2 linked regions of the Homo sapiens genome follow. The protein of the gene in region 1 binds, or shares a complex with, the protein of each later gene. Each region holds a gene or a part of one and is shown in the gene's direction. Other genes may lie near its edges.

Region 1 (6,516 bases):
TGTGTGCATCACATATGTACTCATCTATTGATGGACACTTGGGTTGTTTCACCTTTTTTGCCATTGTGAATAATGCTGCTGTGAACATTGGCATACAAATGTGTTTGTGTCGCTGCTTTCAGTTCTTTTGGGTATGTACCTAGGAGGGGATTACTGGGTCATATGTTAACTTTGTTTAATTTTTGAGGAACCACCAAACTTTTTCACAGCAGCTGCACTATTTTATATTCCCCAAAAGATGTATAATTTTAAACTATTTAAGCCCTGTACACTAGAGCTAATCCCTTGAAGATTGGGACCTTACTTGTCTTATTTGGAGGTGCTTGTTAAATTTATGTAGTAGTATGATACCTGTACTTAAGCATCACTCAAGGGTAAGTGTTCTAGGAAGGTTGATTTAGCTTATATGGAAGAACTGTTGAATAATGGCTTGATGAAAATCTCTTCAGAAATTAAAGTGTATGTTTCTTCCAACAAGAGTTCCTATTTGCCAGGTGCTGTGTGTGCTTAGATCCTGAGGGTATAAAGTCAAGACGGTACTGCTCCTCCCTGTAGTAAGTCCTTTTATCAGGGAAAGCGGATGAATAGAGTGATTTTTAGGGTTAAAATGGCAGGGTGAGGTTGTTCCACAGACCTTCCACTCTGAATCAAGAAAAAAAATTACCAAAAAAATCCTGTCCTAAACTATACCGTCCATAAATTGCAACCAAACAAAGAAGGAACAACTTTAAGTTACATCTCAAAATGGTGGCCAAAGAAAAGATTCTGAAAGACTGGATGATTGGTATGGGGGTAACACAAAGGCCTGCCCTCATTCCCAGAAATAGTAATGAGGGAAAATTAGTTAACATATACTGGAAATTCTCAATTTGGAGAAGTAGACTGTGGGGTTAAATAGGCAGTCCCAAGAGAAGTTATGGAAACAGGAGTGGAAGTCCAGAGGAGCCCAGTAGAGGCAGGCTGTGTTCACCAAAGTCAATCAGGGCTCAGCCAGAAAAACAGAATTGGGAGAGATGTGTTAAGAGATTTATTTCTGCTGGGCGTGGTGGCTCACGCCTGTAATCCCAGCACTTTGGGAGGCCGAGGTGGGCGGGTCATGAGGTCAGGAGTTGGAGACCAGCCTGGCCAACATGGTGAAACCCCGTCTCTGCTAAAAATACAAAAATTAGCCAGGCATGGTGGCGGGTGCCTGTAATCCCAACTACTTGGGAGGCTGAGGCAGGAGAATTGCTTGAACCCAGGTGGCAGAGGTTGCAGTGAGCCGAGATCAGCGCCACTGCACTCCAGCCCGGGCGACAGAGCGGGACTCCATCTCAAAAAAAAAAAAAAAAAAAAAAAAAAGCTTTATTGCAAAGAATTTGGTTTACGTGATTGTGGGGGCTGTCTAGGCCCTTAATTGTCAAATCTGTAGGGCAGGTTCTCAGGAAGGAAAGGCTGCTCTTAGGGCCTTTCAACTAATAGAATCAGGCCTCCCCAGATTATATAGGATAGACCTCTGAATTTAAGGTCAATTGGTTGTTGACTTTAGTCACATCTATAAAATATCTCACAGCAATACCTAGGTTAGTGTTTGGTTGAATATCTGGGGACTGTAGCTTCGTCAAGCTGACACAAGTACTGAACCCCACCCTGTCCTCAAGCTTCTGACTAGTGATGAAAAAGCAACACTTGGCACTCCAATTGTTGGTCTGGAAAGACAGTCCTTAGAAGGTGGGAAGCTTGTGTAGGTTTCACACTGTCAGAACTGATAAAAGGTGTGATATAAATCCCCCAAATTAATTAAGAGCAAGACAATATTGAAAATATTTTTAGAAAGGAAAAAATTCTTTCTGGTATATATCATCATAAGTATGTACTGTGTATCAGAATATAGACTGAGCATCGCAAGTCCAAAATCTGAAATGCCACAAAATCTGAAACTTTTGAGAGCTGACGTGACACCGGTGGAAAATTGCACACATAAGTTCTTGACCTCTTTTTTTTTTTTTTTTTTTGAGACAGAGTCTTGCTCTGTCATCCAGGCTGGAGTGCAGTGGCGCGATCTCGGCTCACTGCAACCTCTGCCTCCCAGGTATAAGCGATTCTCCTGCCTCAGCCTCCTGAGTAGCTGGGATTACAGGCGTGCACCAAACTTCCTTTCATGCACACAATTACTTAAAATGATGTATAAAATTGTATTCCAGCTGTGTATAAGGTATGTTTGAAACATAAATGAGTTTCTTATTTAAACTTGGGTCACAACCCCAAGATATCTTACGTATATGCAAAAATTCTAAAATTTGAAAAAACCTAAAACGCTTCTAGTCCCATGTATTTTGGGTAAGGGATACTGAACCTATAATTGATACAGAATAGTTAACATCAAAATATCAGGTTGAAAAAAGGTCACCTCTGAGACAGATAAACCAATGTGACCTCAGGTTTTTTTGTTTTTGAGACAGAGTCTCAGTCTGTCACCCAGGCTGGAGCACAGTGGCACAGTCTTGGCTCACTGCAGCCTCCGCCTCCCAGGTCAAGCGATTCTCTTGTCTCAGCCTCTCGAGTAGCTGGGATTATAGGCTACAGATGTGTGCCACAACGCCTGGCTAATTTTTGGATTTTTAGTAGAAACGGGGTTTCACCATGTTGGCCAGGCTGCTCTCGAACTTGAGCTCCTGGCCTCAGGTGATCCACCCGCCTTGGCCTCCCAAAGTGCTGGGATTACAGGCATGAGCCTCCGCACCTGGCAAAAAAATGTATACTAGGTTATTTCTAAGATGCTTATATGTTAAAATATTTTTTTCAGATTGTTCTCTTATTAGCTCAGGGGACTATATGAAAGTTGGATTCAAGTCAATATTTGCAGGGTAAGAAACTATTGTGACAAGAGCCTGTGCTTCATTGTAAGAAACTTTTGTATATTTCATTGGCTCTAGTACTCTTATCTGTTGTAAAACTTACAATTCTATCTAAGAAAGAAGAAACACATCTGGCTGGGCGCAGTGGCTCACGCTTGTAATCAATCCCAGCACTTTGGGAGGCCAAGATAGGTGGATCACTTGAAGTCAGGAGTTCGAGACCAGCATGGCCAACATGGTGAAACCCTGTCTCTACTAAAAATAGAAAAATTACCTGGGCGTGGTGGTGGGCGTCTGTAATCCCAGCTACTCAGGAGGCTGAGGCAGGAGAATTGCTTGAACCTGGGAGGCGGAGGTTGCAGTGAGCTGAGGTCACGCCACTGCACTCTAGCCTGGGCGACAGAGCGAGACTCTCTCAAAAACAAAACGTCAGTATGAAAATGCTTTCCTAGTACATTGATTCTAAGATACATTCCAATTTCAGAGATGCTAAAATGTGGAAGGGTACATGTCTTAGAACTAATGGGATACATCTATTTTGCATATTTGGATTTATTTGGACTAGTTACCCTTAGGTAAATCACTAGGCCATAAGGTGTTGTGTAGCAACAGAAGATAGCATATAGAATCTCTGAAGTCCCTTTTAGCACTAAGAGTCTAATTAATTGAAATTTCCAGCAGTAAGGCTGGTACATGGAGTTTTTGGAGGCAAATAGTATTTTTAGCTGCTTTAAAATTAATCTCTAGTATAAGACCCTGGCAGTTTCTAATGTAAATCACAACTCAGATATATGTAATTAACTCATTGTTAGTATCCCTTTTAATATTATTGCTGATTAATAAGCAAATGTAAATGTCTTTTTTAAAAAAAATCCAGGATGGATGCAACCTTGAAAGAACTGACAAGCTTAGTAAAAGAAGTCTACCCAGAAGCTAGAAAGAAGGGCACTCACTTCAATTTTGCAATCGTTTTTACAGATGTTAAAAGACCTGGCTATCGGTAGGTAACTTCTCATTTTTAAGTCCTGTAATCTCTTTGTTTTTAGTATGTTTTAACTGATACAGATAACTCCTTCAATGAATCTTGTTAGTGGGAGAATATGGGTTTATATTAATACGTGGTTTGGCTTAATAAAGTAGTTAAATTTTGGAAGTGTGTTATAAAATGATGGAGAAAATCCAGTGCCATATTCACTTTGTAGTACATACTGGGTTTCATTGATTTGGATCCATTAACAGTTGATTTTCTTTCTTACAGAGTTAAGGAGATTGGCAGCACCATGTCTGGCAGAAAGGGGACTGATGATTCCATGACCCTGCAGTCGCAGAAGTTCCAGATAGGAGATTACTTGGACATAGCAATTACCCCTCCAAATCGGGCACCACCTCCTTCAGGGCGCATGAGACCATATTAAATTCTATTTACTATTTGTTGAATTTATTTTTCCGTCAGTTATGTAAAATAAACATACTCTTCTTCCTCCCCTGATTATTGCCATTAAGCCTTTAAATTCTAAACAAATTATAATGCATCATCTATTTAGGAGTTAGATTTGGATGTGCTATTGTATGATTACGAATAGTCTGTATGTTTCAAGCCCTTCTGTAAAATATGAAGAAAAGTGCTCTTAGCATTCTGTGTAAAACTGTACTGTTAAATATATGTGTGTAATCAGCCTGAGTGTGAAAGTTAATGGAGGCCTGGGAACAGGGTTTATACTAAGTAGTGGAGGAGCGTATGGTTAAGCCCAAAGGGGCAGAACAAGAAAGCCACGGGATTGTATGAAATCAAACATGAGTTTGTGGTGTAGACTGCTGTATGCAGTTGGAAAGGACACGTGAGAGTGAGCTCAAGTGGCAGCAGAGGCAGTTTGGAATAAGCTGCGGCAAGTTGAAGAAGCTGTGTTGGACGAGATTGCCCCGCCTTGATCAGGGTACCATGACATAAAAGGTTAAAGAACAGGCAACACAATGAGCACTTAAGTTTTTAACATGTGGGGAATAGGGCATTTTAAAGGCTGGAACCAGTTCAGAGGAAACAAGGGTTTGGGTAGAGGTAGAAAGGTTTAATTAACCCTGGAGATCTGCAAATGGAGGGAGGGGTGAAGGAGGAATCTTAAGACCGAGGGAGAAGAGCCAAGGACAAGGTCAGGTTGAATGAGTAGGAGGTGTTCACACATCCTCTTGTGTGCTAGGTAGTGGCGTGCATCTGATCTGAGAGGCAGTAAAGCAGTGATGAAGACAGTGCAGCAGAACATTGAAGTCCTGATTGCAGCAGTGACTCTGCAACCTTGGATAAATTATTTCAATCTTTATTTTGTAAAACGGAGATAACGGCCTATAGGATTGTTAAGACTGAATATTTTAAAAGAGCTTAGAATGGTGCCTGACAAATGAGAAACAATAAATACTGATTATTGGCCATAAAGTGGTATTAAAACTGGATCTCTTTTCTTCCATGGCACTACTCTCATTTTGAAGTTTATGAACAGTACGACAGTGTATTGTAAATTCCCTTTAGTTTGTTACAGTAGCCAATTGAAAATGTATATCCCAAAATTTAAAAAAAAAAGTACCAGCAGCAATAAAATTGCACTAGTTTTATCTGGTACATACAAAAACAGCCATTTAAAATCTGATGATTCTGTGGAATTGGTGTCCCTGTTAGCAATGGCAGAGACCAGCCTGGAGCCTAGATCTGGTGCTTCTTCTGTGCTGTGGTTTACCCCAAACCTTTAGGTTGTTTATTCATTCAGATTAGATAGACTGGAGCCATAAAGTTAATTTGCACCTAGCTTTTTGGAGAATAGCCATGATTAACTGCTATTCGTGGTGGGGGTGGGGGGGAACCCTATGATTTACTATGCAGATGAAGAGGGTAGGAACTAAATAAAGGACTTTGTAAGCCAAAGTGGTTGGGCTGCTTTGTCAAATTCCACCCTTTGCTTGGTTCCAACATGGAATTTCTCCTTTAAAGATTTCAATATCCCATCAAAAGTACAGTTAGAGAATACCTAGTGAATTTATTGAATATAATGCTAAGAATCAAAAGACTTGTACTAGTTTACCTCTGGCTTTGGTAAGTGTGGCTTTGAGTAATAACTGAGCTGTTTCCCCGCATATAAAATAGAAATAAATAAGTAGTCATCATGACAGCATCTTGCTCAGTGCTTTAGTGTCTGCCCTGGTTGCCTCATTTGCTCCTAGGTATTTTGGAATTGACGTTTTCCCTTTGGAATATGTGTTACAGTACATGATATTGCCTATAATGTCTTTTTAGTTTTTCACGGTGTACAAAAACTGGGACGGTTATGCCCAGCTGATCATTGACTCAGGTAATGTTTTAGGTATCGGTTGTATGCATGTGAGGGGCAGGTGTGAATGTAGAAAGAAACATTATTAGGCTAGGTTTAAAATTCTCTAAAGTTGAACATAATAAGGAGCTGAACTTGATGCACCTCTTTCTTGTTCAATTAAACACATTTCAGACTTGTTTTTGTGAAATAGAAGGCAACACTCTAAATCAAGTTTGTAACTATGATTTAAGTGTTTACTTGTGCCAAACACAGATGGTTCCCAAGTTATGATAGTTCAACTTTAGATTTTTCAGCTTTGCAGTGGCGCATAAGCGATAAGCCATTCACTACGGTCCTCAGCTTATTATGGGGCTACATCCCAA
Region 2 (7,037 bases), on another chromosome or scaffold:
TAGGTTTTTCTCTGTTCTGCATGTGAATGTGGTGCTGTGGCATTTTGAAAGGACTGCAGGGGCTCATCAAACTTGTGGGTGAAAACTGAATTGTTCAGCCTGTAAAATAACAGTGATGGTCTCCACCATCTCCATTTTTTAAGAAAAAGATACGCTGGGGCGACAGTTGTACCTGTGCCTCCTCTGCGGGGTAGAGACGCCTCCAGGAGCACATGGGGACTGTCCCTATGTGTTCCTGACTGTGTGGACACTTATTGCTTACCGTGCTCCCTTGCTGCCTTTTTGTGTGCTCAGCTTTTGACTGCAAAGTAGACTTGTTGCCTTGCCAATTCGTTCACTCTTTAAACCCTTTTATCTTGTTATTAGGCTGCTCTTTGGCGTAAATTGCAATCGATTAGGGATCGTTTCTCAGAATCAAGTTAGAAGTGAGAGTTCAGATAAGTGAGGCCGCCATTGCTGCTTTGAACACCTCAGAAGGGGAGAATGGATTTATCAGGAGTGAAAAAGAAGAGCTTGCTAGGAGTCAAAGAAAATAATAAAAAGTCCAGCACTAGGTAATCCTTCTGTAAGATTTTTCTAGTGCTACTTGGGGGTGCTTACTGCTAGGGACCCGCAGAAAGGGGAAAGTTGAGAATGTTCTGCATTCTACAGTGAGTGTTCTGAGCCACAGACCACTTTGCTCTGTGGTCACCTCGGGTCTCTGTGGCCCTGCTGATGCTGATCCCCCGTTTTGGGTTGTGCTGTTTGGGTTTGGTCAGAGGAGCACGCAATCTCACACTCTTCCTCACCATCCAGGGCTCCTTCACCTACCAAACGCAAAGACCGCTCAGATGAGAAGTCCAAGGATCGCTCAAAAGATAAAGGGGCCACCAAGGAGTCGAGTGAGAAGGATCGCGGCCGGGACAAAACCCGAAAGAGGCGCAGCGCTTCCAGTGGTAGCAGCAGTACCAGGTGGGGCGGGCTGGCCTGGAGCCTGGAGAGGACCTGTGCCACAGCTACACCCCCACTCCCCACAGATGGCTCGGTTTTCTTGATTATTTACAAAGAAAACACATCCTCTGATTGTTAGTAGAGACCCTAATTTATGGCAGACTGGCTAGGTGCAGTGGTGGCTCATGCCTATAATCCCAGCACTTTGGGAGGCCGAGGCAGGAGGATTGCTTGGGGCCTGGAGTTCAAGACCAGCATGGGCAACAAAACAAGAGCTCGTCTCTACAAAAAAAAAAAAAAAAGAGTAATTTGTAAAATTAGCTGAGCGTGGTGGCATGCATCTGTAGTCCCAGCTACTTGGGAGGGCTGAGGCAAGAGGATGGCTTGAGCCCAGGAGTTTGAGGAAAATAAACAAAACTAGCCGGGTGTGGTGGTACACGCCTGTACTCCCAGCTACTCGGGAGGCTGAGTCAGGAGGATGGCTTGATTCCAGGGGGTTGAAGCTGCAGTGTGCGGAGATCATGCCACTGCACTCCAGCTTGGGTGGCAGACCCTGTCTCAAAAGAAAAAATCAACCTAGCCTGGGTCAGCATCAGCCAGCAGCTGCCTTCCCAGCCTGAGTTGGCAGTTGTGACTTTTGCCAGAGTCCTTTGCCTCCCAGCAGGAAAGGCTTCTGTATGGGTAGAAGGCAGCCCATCACCTCTGTCCTGTCCCACACACAATGTGACACCTAGGGCTCTGACTTGCTGGGGGATTGGGGGGTGATGTTTTCCCCACTGCTGAAAGCAGTGAGGCCTGGAGGCACCCGAACAGCAGGTTTCTCCTGGGGGGAGCACAACAGAATTGGAGGAGGCGTCTGTACTGTGAGACTTGGTGTGTGGTGGTTGTGACCCCTCATCTTGCCCTCAGGTCTCGGTCCAGCTCGACTTCCAGCTCAGGCTCCAGCACCAGCACTGGCTCAAGCAGTGGCTCCAGCTCTTCCTCAGCATCCAGCCGCTCAGGAAGCTCCAGCACCTCCCGCAGCTCCAGCTCTAGCAGCTCTTCTGGCTCTCCAAGTCCTTCTCGGCGCAGACACGACAACAGGAGGCGCTCCCGCTCCAAGTGAGTGCCCTGCGCCTGGGAGCTAAAGTTTACAAGCTCGGGGCTACAGATTTACCATCGAGGTTATAAAAGGGACCCAAAAGGAGTCTTTCTGTGTTAATAGGATTTCTGAGACAGGAATAATGTATGTGAACTAGCAGGAAAGTCTTCCTTATGAAAACTGTCACACAAGCAGATAAGAGCTTACTCGAAAGGCGTCTAGTACATTTTGACTTGACAGAAATTGTTTCTGGTGTTTTGTTTTCTCAATCAGATCCAAACCACCTAAAAGAGATGAAAAGGAGAGGAAAAGGCGGAGCCCATCTCCTAAGCCCACCAAAGTGCACATTGGGAGACTCACCCGGAATGTGACAAAGGTGAGGATCATGGATCTCTCCTGTGGGCAGTGGGGTGTGGACAAGCAGGCCTGTGCCTGCAGATGAACTTAGAATGTAGCCTTTTGGAGGACTGGGGTGGTGGCATGTGGTTTGAGTACAGCATTGATTCGTTCCTCTTGGTGGACCATTAATACATGTGTCTGGGAGATTTATCCCAGAACAACACTGGTACTCATCAGATGGAATGTTTTACCCTGCCGAGGTTTTAGTCATGATGTGCTGAGCTCTCTGCGTCTGACGTGACTGACTGGTAGCTGGGCGTTGGCGTGACCCTTCTTTCCCTCTAGGATCACATCATGGAGATATTTTCCACCTATGGGAAAATTAAAATGATTGACATGCCCGTGGAAAGGATGCATCCCCATCTGTCCAAAGGCTATGCGTACGTAGAGTTTGAGAATCCAGATGAAGCCGAGAAGGCGCTGAAGCACATGGATGGAGGTGGGTGACCCTGCCACATAACCCTGACCTCTCAGAGACCCGCCGCCGCGAGGGGCTTTCAAACTGATTTCCAACTGGGCTGCACTTCTTTTTGTTTGTTTGAGACAGAGTTTCACACTTGTTGCCCAGGCTGGGGTGCAGTTCCTGGACCAAACTGAGGTTTGGGCTGCTATTTCTCATGGCCCAATAACAAGATGCACATTAACTGAGTAGGTGGAGTTTTTATTTCTGCAACCAGTTGCAGGGAAAAGGCCTGGAAATTATTGCCAGACCAACTTAAAATTACAAAGTTTTTCAGAGCTTATATATTTTTTAAGCTATATGTCTATACATATGTGTACATTTATGTAAAGACATAAGTTACTGACTTTTAATCTATTAACTAAGGATTGAGTCTTGAAGACCTTCCTCTGGAGCCTCAGTAAATTGACTTAATTTAAATGGCTGTGAGTGCTGGGGTAATTACCCTTGCTTTGCCTTCTGCTAAATCACAGCAGTTTGGGGAGTTTTCTTCCCAATAAAACTGGCTTAATCCTAAATGGGTCCTGACGTATTCTTCGTTATTTTATGTTTTAAGGCCCAGGAAAGGCCTAAGCTAAACTTTTGGTGGGCTTTTCTTATATCCCAGCCTTTGTATAAGGGCCTTGGCTTTTAATATTTAACTACTCAGACAGTACTAAAACACTTGTTACAGAGGCCTGCGTTAGTGAGACCTGGCCTGCCACAATCCCCACTGTCAATTTGCTCATGCTTTTTATCATGCATGTATATGTATTTATTAATCACGAGAATCGTAGGGAGATGAAGCATTGTAATCTTTCTGGCTGCTTCCTGCTGAGAGAGGGTTGTCGTCATGGGGCACCAAACACAGCGCTGGAGTGGAAGAGGTGGATTTGTTCCCGGTAGCACTTTCTGTTCTGGGGGCTTCGAGGCAGCACCTGCTGAAACGTAATAGGATGCAACAGCCACACATAGAAGTAGGTTGCTGCTGTTTTCTTCCCAAGTTTAGTCTTCAGTTTACAGGGCTTGAGGAAAGCATAGCTTAGATTTCAGTGATTTCCAATTAGGAAAAAGGAAACAAAAAAGGAAAAAATTGAGAACAGTATTTGGGTGTACTATAGTTTTTGAAACAATTTTTTTTTTTTTTTGAGACGGAGTCTGGCTCTGTCGCCCAGGCTGGAGTGCAGTAGCACCACCTCGGCCCACTGCAAGCTCTGCCTACCAGGTTCATGCCATTCTCCTCCCTCAGCCTCCCGAGTAGCTGGGACTACAGGCGCCCACCACCATGCCTGGCTAATTTTTTGTATTTTTAGTAGAGACGGGGTTTCACCGTGTTAGCCAGGATGGTCTGGATCTCCTGACCTTGTGATCCGCCTGCCTCGGCCTCCCAAAGTGCTGGGATTACAGGCATGAGCCACCATGCCCAGCCAACAATTTTTTTTGGGGGCTTCCCATTTTTATTAAAAGACAAATAGGACTGGTATTTATTAAAAGACAAGACTGGTTTGCTTTATTATATTTGGCTTAATTATTTGTATACAGTGGAGCAAGAACCATAATTTTTTCTATAGGCCTTTTATCTGAGATAATACCTTTTTAAACCCAAGCCCAGCCATGGATATGTACAATTAAATACCTGTGAGTTGGGTGAAATCCTCTCCTCTTGAGGTTCCAAGATAACTTGAGGTTTTTGTCCATTAGAAAGTGGCATGTTTTACTTCCCTCAGATTAGAAACCCTGTACAGGGACTGTGTACACAAAATAGGAGGCCGGTTTTTTATTTGTGTTCTGTTACAAAAGAAAACGGATTTTTATTGCACTTACGCAAATAACTATATTGCTATAAATTAAGAATACGTACAAATAGACTGGGCAACATGGATCACCTGAGGTCAGGAGTTTGAGACCAGCGTGGCCAACATCGTGAAACCCCGTCTCTAATAAAAATACAAAAATTAGCCGGGCATGATGGCACACACCTGTGGTCCCAGCTACTTGGGAGGCTGAGGCAGGAGAATTGCTTGAACCTAGGAGGCAGGGATTGCAGCGAGCCAAGATTACGCCACTGCACTCCAGCCTGGGCAACAAAGTGAGACTAGGTCTCAAAAAAAAAAAAAAAAAAAAAAAAAAGAATACACACACACACACAAATAGTTTCCAAATTCTGAAGAAATTAGGTAGAGAGAAACAAATATGCTCCAAGTTTTGTTCCTAGGCGTATACTTAATTGTTGATAGCTTAAAACTTTTTTTGACTTTGAAAAATAAAAGGATTAGGAATATTTTAAGCAAAAAGTTAAAAAGATTACTTCAGTGTTCTATTAGTTCAGTTTATGCAGTTAATTTCTGCCCTGCTTGATATTAATGAACGCTTTACCTTTCTTTTTTTTGAGACGGAGTCTCGCTCTGTCGCCCAGGCTGGAGTGCAGTGGCGCAATCTCGGCTCACTGCAAGCTCCACCTCCTGGGTTCACACCATTCTCCTGCCTCAGCCTCTCGAGTAGCTGGGACTGCAGGCACCGGCCACCACACCCAGCTAATTTTTTGTATTTTTAGTAGAGATGGAGTTTCACCCTGTTAGCCAGGATGGTCTGGATCTCCTGACCTCGTGATCCGCCCGCCTCAGCCTCCCAAAGTGCTGGGATTACAGGCGTGAGCCACTGCACCCGGCCTTATTTTAGCTCTTTAAGAGTCCTGAATGTTTTTTCTTTATTCTGATGTCACAATCTGCAAAGTTATTAGAAATCTGTATTTAAGAGCAACTGTTAGAACTCTATAGCTGATTATAAAACCACCTTCTAAAAAGGATTAAAACAAGACAACAATTGTTTATGGATGACAAAAAGGTTTTAGGGCAGCCATAGTTAAAGACACAATTGACGAAATTTGTTAGCTCTGTGGCACACAATAATTTAACATAACAATTATAATTATTACTGATCATGTACACTAGGATATATTGCAATTGTAGGAGTTTTACGTGATTTTGGGACACATATCAATAACATTTATACAAATACAGCCCAAACAAAGCCAAACCCAATTTTATATTTGGTAGTGCTTCCTGTATAATTTTTGGTACCAAATAAGCCAAATTTCACTTTTACATCAGTGTGCTGTTAATGTTAAAACCCAATCCTTTTTTTTTTTTTTTTTGAGACTTTTTTCTGCTCTTGTTGCCCAGGCTGGAGTACAATGGTGCAATCTTGGCTCACTGCAACCTCCGCCTCCTGGGTTCAAGCAGTTCTCCTGCCTTAGCCTCCCGAGTAGCTGGGATTACAGGCAACCTCCACTATATCCAGCTAATTTTTGTATTTTTAGTAGAGACATGGTTTCACCATGTTGGCCAGGTTGGTCTTGAACTCCAGACCTCAGGTGATCCACCCGCCTTGGCCTCCCAAAGCAGCTGGGATTACAGGTGTGAGCCACTGCGCCCGGCCTAAACGTAATTTTAATGCTTAATTTACAGAAAAACTAGATGATACCCCTTTAACTTTAGCCAGCATGTTTACATACAGAATTTTCTTTACAATCAACCTCCCACACCTTTTTTTGAGACAGAGTCTTGCTCTGTCGCCCACGCTGGTGTGCAGTGGCATGATTTTGGCTCACTGCAACTTCCACCTCCTGGGTTCAAGCAATTCTTCTGCTTCAGCCTCCCCAAGTAGCTGGGATTACAGGCTCCCGCCACCACACCTGGCTAATTTTTGTGTTTTTAGTAGAGATGGGGTTTCACCATGTTGGCCAGGCCTGTCTCAAACTGCTGACTTCAGGTGATCCTCTCGCCTCAACCTCCCAAAGTGCTGGGATTACAGGCGTGAGCCAACGCGCCCGGCATGGATTCCAGTTCTTAGTGGGTGTGTGATTACCGAAAAGATGTTTTAGGAACACCTTTTTTTTGTAGCTCCAGTTTAAAGGAACACTATTCTTGGGGGAAAAAAATTAGCAAATATGCGTAGATTAACATTTTAGAGAGTTTCCAATCTGTTAAAAGCTTAAGGATCAAATTCAGTTTTCTTACATAGAATACATTTGGCTTTTTATATGGGAATATTTCCTTTAATCATTTCTGAGAACCAGAAGTTTCCCAGTATTTCAGCATTTTTAGTTTATTTTGCTGAGTGACTGGATTTACTGAATCTATACAGTTTATTTCTTAAACACTTGTATCTCATAACCACTCATGACGT

What was found.
Region 2: SAP18 (region 1) and RNPS1 share a complex: the UniProt entries of both Homo sapiens proteins name them as parts of the heterotrimeric ASAP (apoptosis- and splicing-associated protein) and PSAP complex.

Annotation. Positions count from the first base shown.
Region 1 is NC_000013.11:21,143,091-21,149,606, forward strand, and holds the end of SAP18 (histone deacetylase complex subunit SAP18), read left to right. Parts: intron 1-2,001; coding exon of another isoform or gene 2,002-2,194; intron 2,195-3,714; coding exon 3,715-3,837; intron 3,838-4,095; coding exon 4,096-4,252; 3' UTR 4,253-6,007; downstream 6,008-6,516. UniProt on the Homo sapiens protein: Component of the SIN3-repressing complex. Enhances the ability of SIN3-HDAC1-mediated transcriptional repression. When tethered to the promoter, it can direct the formation of a repressive complex to core histone proteins.
Region 2 is NC_000016.10:2,258,090-2,265,126, reverse strand, and holds part of RNPS1 (RNA-binding protein with serine-rich domain 1), read left to right. Parts: intron 1-366; 5' UTR 367-483; coding exon 484-554; intron 555-795; coding exon 796-951; intron 952-1,839; coding exon 1,840-2,031; intron 2,032-2,284; coding exon 2,285-2,387; intron 2,388-2,695; coding exon 2,696-2,849; intron 2,850-7,037. UniProt on the Homo sapiens protein: Part of pre- and post-splicing multiprotein mRNP complexes. Auxiliary component of the splicing-dependent multiprotein exon junction complex (EJC) deposited at splice junction on mRNAs.